Linked DNA regions of Homo sapiens: region 2 is reported to be linked to region 1. The links are microRNA targets in miRTarBase. Many come from high-throughput screens and were not tested one by one. Region 1 holds a microRNA gene; the other region holds the end of a gene's coding sequence.

Region 1 (4,521 bases):
CTGTCCCAAAAAGGACCATATGAGCCCAAGAGACCTAGGTTGGAAGTGCCTCTGTACTCCAGCCTGGGCCACAGAGACCCTGTCTTAGAAAACAAAAACAAAACAGAACCCCAACATCATCCAAGTCTGATAATAAGCATGCAAATATATTACCAACATCAGCATCAACTTCAACACTGCTTTTCCCAAACGGTAACACTCTAAAGGGAAGCACTTTGTTTTTTCTCAGACAACAAACAGAAAGTGCTTCCTCTAGAGGGTCACAGCATGGGATCTTCTTGCTCCAGCACTCTGGGTTTCTTGTTGGAATTTTCCTTGACCAGGTTAAAACGGATACAAAAATAAAAATGCATTTATTGGCCCTGTTTACATGTTTTATGGAATCCAGAACATAAACCCCTGAAAGGACCATCTCCAATTCCTTGCTTCAAAGGCTCAGCAGGTTAGCCTTGTTCATCAAGGGGCGATCGTCCTGAGTTTTGTCCCCAAAGAGAAAAAGGAATACCTACTACTCATACCTTACATTTAGCTAAGAGAATTGGGCTGATGTTGAAGAATATACATTGTCTCACACACAAACATCCTCCAGGATAGACCAGAGTCTAGGCTGACTCTAGAGGACCACGTGAGATTAGGGGCGGTGGCTCACGCCTGTAATCCCAGCACTTTAGGAGGCCAAGGCTGGTGGATCACCTGAGGTCGGGAGTTTGAGACCAGCCTGCCCAACATGGTGAAACCCAGTCTCTATTCAAAACACAAAAATTAGCTGGGTGGGGCAGTAGGCACCTGTAATCCCAGCTACCCAGGAGGCTGCGGCAGGAGAATCGCTTGAACCCAGGAGGTGGAGGTTGCAGTGAGCCTAAATTGCAACACTGCACTCCAGCCTGGACATCAAGAGTGAAACTCCATCTCAACAACAACAACAACAATAAAAATAATAACTAGCAGGACACGATGGCGGGCATCTCTATTCCCAACTATTCGGCAGGCTGAGGTGGGAGAATCGCCGGAAGCTGGGAGGCGGAGTTTCCGGTCAACAGGGATCCTGCCGCTGCACTCCAGCCTGGGAAACGGAATGAGAGCGCATCTCAAAAAATCAAAAATAAAAAGATCACCACTTGAGCCCAAGAGATCTCGGTTGGAGGTGCCACCCACTCCCGCCTGGGCAACAGGGAACCTGTCTTGGAAAAAAACAAACCAAAGAGAACCCCAACATCATGCAAGTCTGATGATAAGCACGCTCTGCAAATGTATTACCAAGATCAGCAGCATCTTCAACGTTGCTTTTCTCAAACAGTAACACTCTAAAGGGATGCACGATCTTTTCTTAGACAACAGACAGTGCTTCCATCTAGAGGGTCACAGCATGAGGTCTTCTTGCTCCAGTACTGTAGGGTTCTTTTTTTTGTTTTTGTTTTTGTTTCTTTTTGACGGAGTCTTGCTCTGTTGCCGAGGCTAGAGTGCAATGGCACGATCTCGGCTCACTGCAAGCTCCGCCTCCTGGGTTCAAGCCATTCTCAAGCCTTAGCCTCCCGGGTAGCTGGGACTACAGGCACCCACCACCACGCCTCGCTAATTTTTTGTATTTTTAAATAGAGATGGGGTTTCACCGTGTTAGCCAGGATGGTCTCGATCTCCTGACCTCGTGATCCACCCGCCTCGGCCTTTCAAAGTGGTGGGATTACAGGCGTGAGCCACAGCGCCCAGCTTTTTTTTTTTTTTTTTTTTTTCAGACGGAATCTCACTCTGTCATCCTGGCTGGATGCTGTGGCACAATCTCGGCTCACTGCAGCCTCTGCCTCCCGGGTTCAAGCAATTCTCCTGCCTCAGCCTCCTAAGTAGCTGGGATTACAGGTGCCCACCACCACACTGGGCTAATTTTTGTTGTTATTGTATTTTTAGTAGAGACGGATTTTCACCACGTTGGTCAGACTGGTCTCAAACTCCTGACCTGAGATGATCTACCTGCATCGGCCTCCCAAAGTGCTGGGATTACAGGCATGAGCCACCATGCCCGGCTTTATTTTGTATTTTTATTCATTTGTTTATTTTTTGAGACAGAATTTCCCTGTGTTGCCCAGGCTGACCATTTGAAGCCAAGAGATATATTGGACATGTCACTGCACTCCAGCATGAGCAACACAGAGCCTTAGAATAAAAAAGCAAAACCAAAACAGAACCCCACCATCGTCCAAGTGTGATAAGCATGCTCTGCAAATGTATTACCGAAATCAGCATCAACTTCAACGTTGCTTTTCTCAAACCGTAACCCACCAAAGAGAAGCACTTTCTTTTCTTTTAGACAACAGAAAGGGCTTCCCTTTGTAGACTCACAGCTTGAGATCTTCTTGCTCCGGCACTCTGGGTTTCTTGTTGAAATTTTCCTTGACCTGGTCAAAATGGACACAAAAATAAAGATGCATTTATTGGTCCTGTTTGCATATTTTCTGGAATCTAGAACATAAACCGATACAAAGACCATCTCCAGTTCCTTGCTTCAAACGTTCAGCAGGTTAGCCTTGTTCATCGAGGGACAACTGTCCTGGGTTTTGTCTTCAAAGAGAAAAAGCAACGCCTACTACATATACCTTATATTCTCAGGAGTTAGACACCAGCCTGGGAAACATGGTAAAACCTCATCTGTAAAAATACAAAAGTTAGCCAGGTATAGAGGTGCATGCCTGTAGACACTAATTCAGGAGGCTGAGGTGGGAGGTTGAGGTTGCCGGGAGCCGAGATCACACCACTGCACTCCAGCATAGGTGACAGGGCCAGATCTTGTCTCAAAAACAAACGAACGAACAAACAAAAAATGCACACACCAACAAAAAAATGCCCAAAGTGATATAAGAGTATTCTCAGGGTGTAAAAGAGTCTTTTGTGTGTACATGATATTATATATATAAGAATATATGAAGGCCAGCCGCGGTGGCTGTCTGCAATCCCAGTACTTTGGAAAGCCAAGGTGGGCAGATCACCTGAAGTCGGGAGTTTGAGACCAGCCTGACCAACATGGAGAAATCCCGTCTACTAAAATACAACAAATTAGCTAGCCCTGGAAGTGTATGCCTGTAATCCCAGCTACTCAGGAGGCTGAGGTAGGAGAGTCGCTTTAACCCAAGAGGTGGACATCGCAGGGAGCCCAGATCACACCATTGCACTTCAGCCTATGCGACAAGAGCAAAACTCAGTCGCAAAAACATAAAAAATAATAATAATAAAAGAAACTTCCATATATTGTATGCTCACAGGAAGAATACTTCCTACACACAAGTGCTAGCTTTGGCAGCACGCATGAAAAAATTGGAATGACAAAGATTACCATGGGCCCTGCGCAAAGGTGACACTCAAATTCATGATGATCTCATATTTATCTATTTTTATTTTTTAACGTTTAATGTTTATTTAATAGTTTTATTTATTTATTTAGAGACAGAGTTTCACTCGTTGCCCAGGCTGGAATACAATGGCACAATCTCGGCTCACCACAACCTCCGCCCCCTGGGGTTCAAGTGATTCTCTTGCCTCAACCTCCCGAGCAGCTGGGATTACAGGCATGCGCCACCATGCCCGGCTAATTTTGTATTTTTAGTAGAGATGGGGTTTCTACGTGTTGGTTAGGCTGGTCTTGAACTCCCGACCTCAGGTGATCCGCCACCTCGGCCTCCCAAAGTTCTGGGATTACAGGCATGAGTCACTGTGCTCGGCCTATTTATTTAATTTTTGAAACAGAATCTCACTCTGTCACCCAGGATGGAGTACAATGGTGTGATTTCGTCTCACTGCAATCTCCTTTTCCCAGGTTCAAGAGATTCTCTTGCCGTGGCCTCCCAAGTAGCTGAGATTACAGGTGTCCACCACTGTTCCCAGCCATTTTTCCTAATTTTAGTATAGACGAGGTTTTGCCTTGTTTGCCCAGCTAGTCTTGGACTCCTGACCTGAGGAGATCCGCCTGTCCTGGCCTCTCAAAGTGCTGGGATTACAGGAGTGGACCACCGTGTCTGGCCTATTTTTTATGTTTTTGAGATGGAGTCTCACTCTTTTTGCCGAGGCTTGAGTGCAGTGGCGTGATCTCAGCTCATTGAAAGATCAGCCTTCCAGCTTCAAGCGACTCTCCTGCCTCAGCCTCCAGAGTAGCTGGGATTACAAGCATATACCACCACCATGCTGGGCTAATTTTGTATTTTTAGTAGAGATGGGGCTGCACCATGTTGGCCAGGCTGGAATCAAATTCCCGACCTCAGGTGATCCTCCTGTCTCAGCCTCCCAAAGTGCTGGAATTACAGGCGTGGGCCACTGTACTCTGCCTGGTGCCATTATTAAAACTAGGAAAAAAGAAAGATGCCCACACCTAAACAGCAAATCATTTGTTGTTCAAGTATGTCTCAAATGCAGTCTTCATCTAAAATACTAATTTGACTGGCGGCTAGGTGTGAACCAAAGAACGGTCCTTTCTTTCCTCTTGCCTGTGCATGGTTAATATTCACATGTAGTCCCAGCTACTAAGGACTGGGGAGAGGT
Region 2 (4,000 bases), not on the chromosome of region 1:
TGAAAAGATTGGGACCTTAGCGACTGCCATTGCTCCCTGTAGAGCTCTCATGGGGCACAAGGCACCACCTCGCCTGTGGGACTTCTGGGAACAGAATTATAACTAGTGGGTGGGAATGACAGGGAGGCCAAGTCCATCGCAACATGAAGAGGAACTTTCTTTCTAAGGGACACAGTTGTGCAGAAATGGAGCCAGCTCTGGGAGGTGGCGAGTGTCCCTTTGCAGGTGTGTGAGTAGAGGCCATGGGACGGACACCTTGGAGGGGTTGCAGTTTGGAGGATTTGGTGATTGGAAGAAGGGATTGGGCTGCTCAGTCATTTTCTGTTTTTCCCTGAAGAACCCTACAAGTTCAGTGGAGCCCCTTGGAGGCTGCTTTGATGAGTGGTAGAGATTGGTATAATGGGAGGGGCTCCCTCCCCAGAACTGCTCCAGGATTTGAGATTGGGTTCAAATCCTAGCCCCACTATTTCCTGGACCTGGAACTATGAGCAAGTCATTTAAAACCTCTTAGTGTCCCAGTTCCCTCTTTTACAATGGGATAATAACCTGCCTTCTTCATAGGGCTGGGTGAAGATTACATGACCAGCGTACTTAAGGTACTTAGCCCTGGCACTTGGTAGCACCCAGTAACCCTAGCTGTTATTTTCACTGTTCCTGCACTGCATTCCATAAGAGACTTTGAAACTCGCTCTACCACATAATCATGAAGTCCTCAAAATTTTTGTTTATTTAGAGTCTCCAAAAAATGACCGTGAGGGGCCTCAGTGAGACCAGATTGTGTCATTTGGCTCCACCTTCATCTTGCAGAGCCAGCTGATCTCAGATTGCCAAGAAACTAGAAGCCACTTGCACGGTGTGGCCAGAGCCTCAGCTGGATGAGAGGCTGAGATGGGTGGCCAGCTTGTACACCAGTCCCTGAACTGAGCTGTTTACAGGACTGGGGAGGCTCCACCCAGAAGGCTTTCATTTGTACTCTGCTGGGAGTGACTGGGAAAAACTCCTTCCCTGCTGCTGAGTGGAGAGAGGCCTCATCCGGCTTTGACCCACCATCCGTTGCAGAAGCCTCCAGGAGCAGCAATCCTAAGAGTGGGAGGCAGCCAAGACCCCCTTCCTTCAAAACCTCCCGGAAGTGGTTTCAGGCCCTCTAGTTGCCATGACCAATTTGTGTGTGTGTTTAATTTTTGCTTCAAGCTCTGTAGCAGGACCTGCCCCACGCACACCCCTACCCCTCTGTGAGGAGCTGTGGGAAGTGTGGGTTTGTCTCCAGAACAGAAGAGAATGATGGATATTCTGGCTCTGGGGCCCTCTCCACCACCACTCACAGTAGCCTTGCTGAAGCCATCACAGATGGGAGAAGGCCATGCCAGCCACGTCCGCCGAGGGGCGCCAGCCTGAAGCTGCCAGGCCCTGAGGTTCAGACCCTGGACCCCATAGCTGGAGGCCTGTGGTGCCAGAAGCCCAGATTAGGGTGGCTGTCCATCCCTGGATAGCTATTTGCACGAATCATGGACATAAATCCAAGTTGAAGAAGATCAACATTCTGACTCATGTTCATTTATGCGCTAATGTTCCCCTGTCAACCCCCTGCTTTCCTGGGTCCCTCCTTCTGTTCCCCTTTTCTTCCTTTCCCTGAGATGGTCACCATTACTCTTGAGTAATGGTGACGTATCAGGGCCTCCCTGAGGGTAGGGCAACCGGGGCAGTGGAAGGAGCCTAGGCCAGGACTCAGGGGACTTGGGTTTAAATTCCAGTCCTGCCCCTCACTCATCAGGAGACCTGGGGCAAGGCGTGGCCCTTCTGTGAGCCTCAGTTTCCTCATCCGTCAAACAGAACACCTCATCTTAACCTCAGCTGACTTGGAGAACTGTGGGAGGGAATGAGAGTAGATCAGAACTGGTTTTATAAACTCCAAATGCTGAGTGAGAGAAGCAGAGTGGGCCAAGGTAGGAGCCAAAAAGCAGGGACTCAAAGCATTGTCTAATTTCTCTCTTTTTTTTTTTTTTTTTTTAAGAGACAGTCTGACTGTGTTGCCCAGGCTGGAGTGCAGTGGCTCTTCACAGACTCAGTCACGGCACACTATAGCCTCAAACTCCCGGGCTCAAGGGAGCCTCCCACATCAGTCTCCCAAGTAGCTGAAGGAGTGCGCCACTGCAGCTAACTATCAGGTTGTTGAAAAAGTAATTGCAATTTTTGCCCCTTTTTTGTGGCAGGGGGGCCTCCCTCATGAAGATGCCACCCCTAATAGGGCTACATGGCCCTTGCAGTCTGCCTTGGCTGATCTCAGGGAGAATTGTGGGGTGGGGAGGTAGCCTTGGATTTTGCCATATGGCGAAAACCGCAATTACCTTTGCACCCACTGTAAAAAGTTTTTGTTGTCATATTTGTTCTTTTCTCATCCTCCCCCCTTTACCCTGCCCCACCTTCTCCTCCTCACTTCCCACCCAGGCGGGGGCGGCCACCATTGAAGAAGCACCACACACAGTAGGCTCAGCTGCTGCAGAAAGGCTTTTACTGGGCAGACGGGGTGAGTCTCAAGCCAGTGGACCAGTGAGGGGTGAGGGCACGTCCTCCGAAGGAGCAGGGGTGGCATCCCTGCCCAGGGGCCTTAGCCTGAATGCACTAAGGGCTGGCCCCTCAGACAGGCTCAGGGGAGGTCCGCCCACAAGGGCTTTGGGCCCCTCCCTCATGAAGACGCCACCCCTGCCATGGGGTCCGTGGCCCTTGCTGTCACATCTGCCTTGGTTGATCTCAGGGAGGTTGATCTCTCTCAGGGAGAACTGTGGGGTGGGGATGTAGCCTTGGGAGGGCCCTTCAGGAAGTAGGAGTGGGGGGTTGGGGAGTGTGGTAGACCCAGAAACTTCTGGGGACGTCAGTCATAGTTACTAATATTTGGAGGCAGTGGGAGATGCTGGCCCCAAGGTTGAGGTATCAGTTAGAGCAGAACAATTGGACCTAGAGCTGGTTTTTCCTTTGGGTTTAGGTGTAAGTGAACTATTATCATTGGAGTGGAGAACTGGAGAGAAAGGGTTGTCACTGTCCAGCACTACACAGCTGCAGGCACACAGATGGTACACATTCCCAGAAAGACACATAGGTAGACACGTGGCTGTACACCCATGCACACACACACAATCACGCATACCTGTAGGCATGTGTGTAAACACCCACATGCACCCACACCCACATGCCTGGCAGTACACAGAACTGTATGCATCCATTTGTGCCAGGCTGGGGCCTTGAGTGATAGGAAAGGGGTCTGTGATGGGTAGATAGTGTGGTTGGAGACACGGATTTCTTCCTGAACAAAGTCCCTCCCCTACATGGTGGACATGGGATGAGACGGCCTTCAGTTACTTCCTCTTGACCCCCAGGGCTGCCTGCCGCCTCATGTAGGACAGGATGTCCATCTTGACGTTGCTGACCGTGGTCCGGTGGTGCCAGCGCATGATGGGTATACCATCTGGCCCCACCAGGAACTTCTCAAAGTTCCAGCGGATGTCGTGAACCTTCATGGGTTCCCAGAAGAGGCGGTCAGATGTACCCAGGAGCTCCGAGGTGGGAGGACAGGAGTTCTAGAGCAGGGATAAGAGGAGTGTCAACCTTGCTTGAGGCCCCCTGACCCTCTTCCTTCCCAGGCCTTCCTGGGGAATAGCCTGGCCCTGAGAAAAGAGCCCCAGTTTGGGAGTTAGAAGACTGCCAGCGCCAGCTGTGGCTCTAGAAGATTGTGAGACCCTTAGTATGTTCACTCTGGGTCCTTCTGGGCCTTTCTGTAAAATGGGCCAATGAGACCCTAGTCAGGGTCTGCAGAGCCCTCTAGTTGGAACAATAGTCAGGTGCCAAGAAATTCCCCAAGAGCCCAGGAGCAGGGGAGGTGGCATGGGCCCTGACGCTGTGGGCTGGAGCCAGGAGGGGCTGCAGCCCCAGCCAGCACAGGTGGCAGCTCACTTACCTTTAGGAAAGTGTAGAATTTCTGCTCTTTCTCTCCATTGACATCCCCTTT

Evidence for each region. Region 1 holds the annotated microRNA hsa-miR-517a-3p (AUCGUGCAUCCCUUUAGAGUGU, at 1,300-1,321, opposite strand). A microRNA usually pairs through its seed, bases 2 to 8, with sites in the 3' UTR of a target mRNA and lowers its output. Matches are read on the target gene's strand: a 7mer-m8 pairs with bases 2 to 8, a 7mer-A1 pairs with bases 2 to 7 and ends in A, and an 8mer does both.
Region 2: the mRNA of TNIP1 is a reported target of hsa-miR-517a-3p. Seed matches in the 3' UTR shown: 8mer at 1,496-1,503.

The regions. Positions count from the first base shown.
Region 1 is chr19:53,717,918-53,722,438 of GRCh38, reverse strand. MIR517B (microRNA 517b) reads right to left here and starts at 1,363; the gene lies at 1,297-1,363. MIR520D (microRNA 520d) reads right to left here and starts at 2,343; the gene lies at 2,257-2,343. It overlaps MIR520G (microRNA 520g), which reads right to left and starts at 273; the gene lies at 184-273. It also overlaps the pseudogene RNU6-803P.
Region 2 is chr5:151,027,481-151,031,480 of GRCh38, reverse strand. TNIP1 (TNFAIP3 interacting protein 1) reads left to right here. Exons shown (of 18, transcript NM_006058.5): 18 at 734-1,536. The coding sequence ends at 768. GPX3 (glutathione peroxidase 3) reads right to left here. Exons shown (of 5, transcript NM_002084.5): 4 at 3,950-4,000; 5 at 2,493-3,572. The coding sequence ends at 3,351. Among named protein-coding and RNA genes, the nearest start is that of GPX3, 8.9 kb to the right of the region's middle.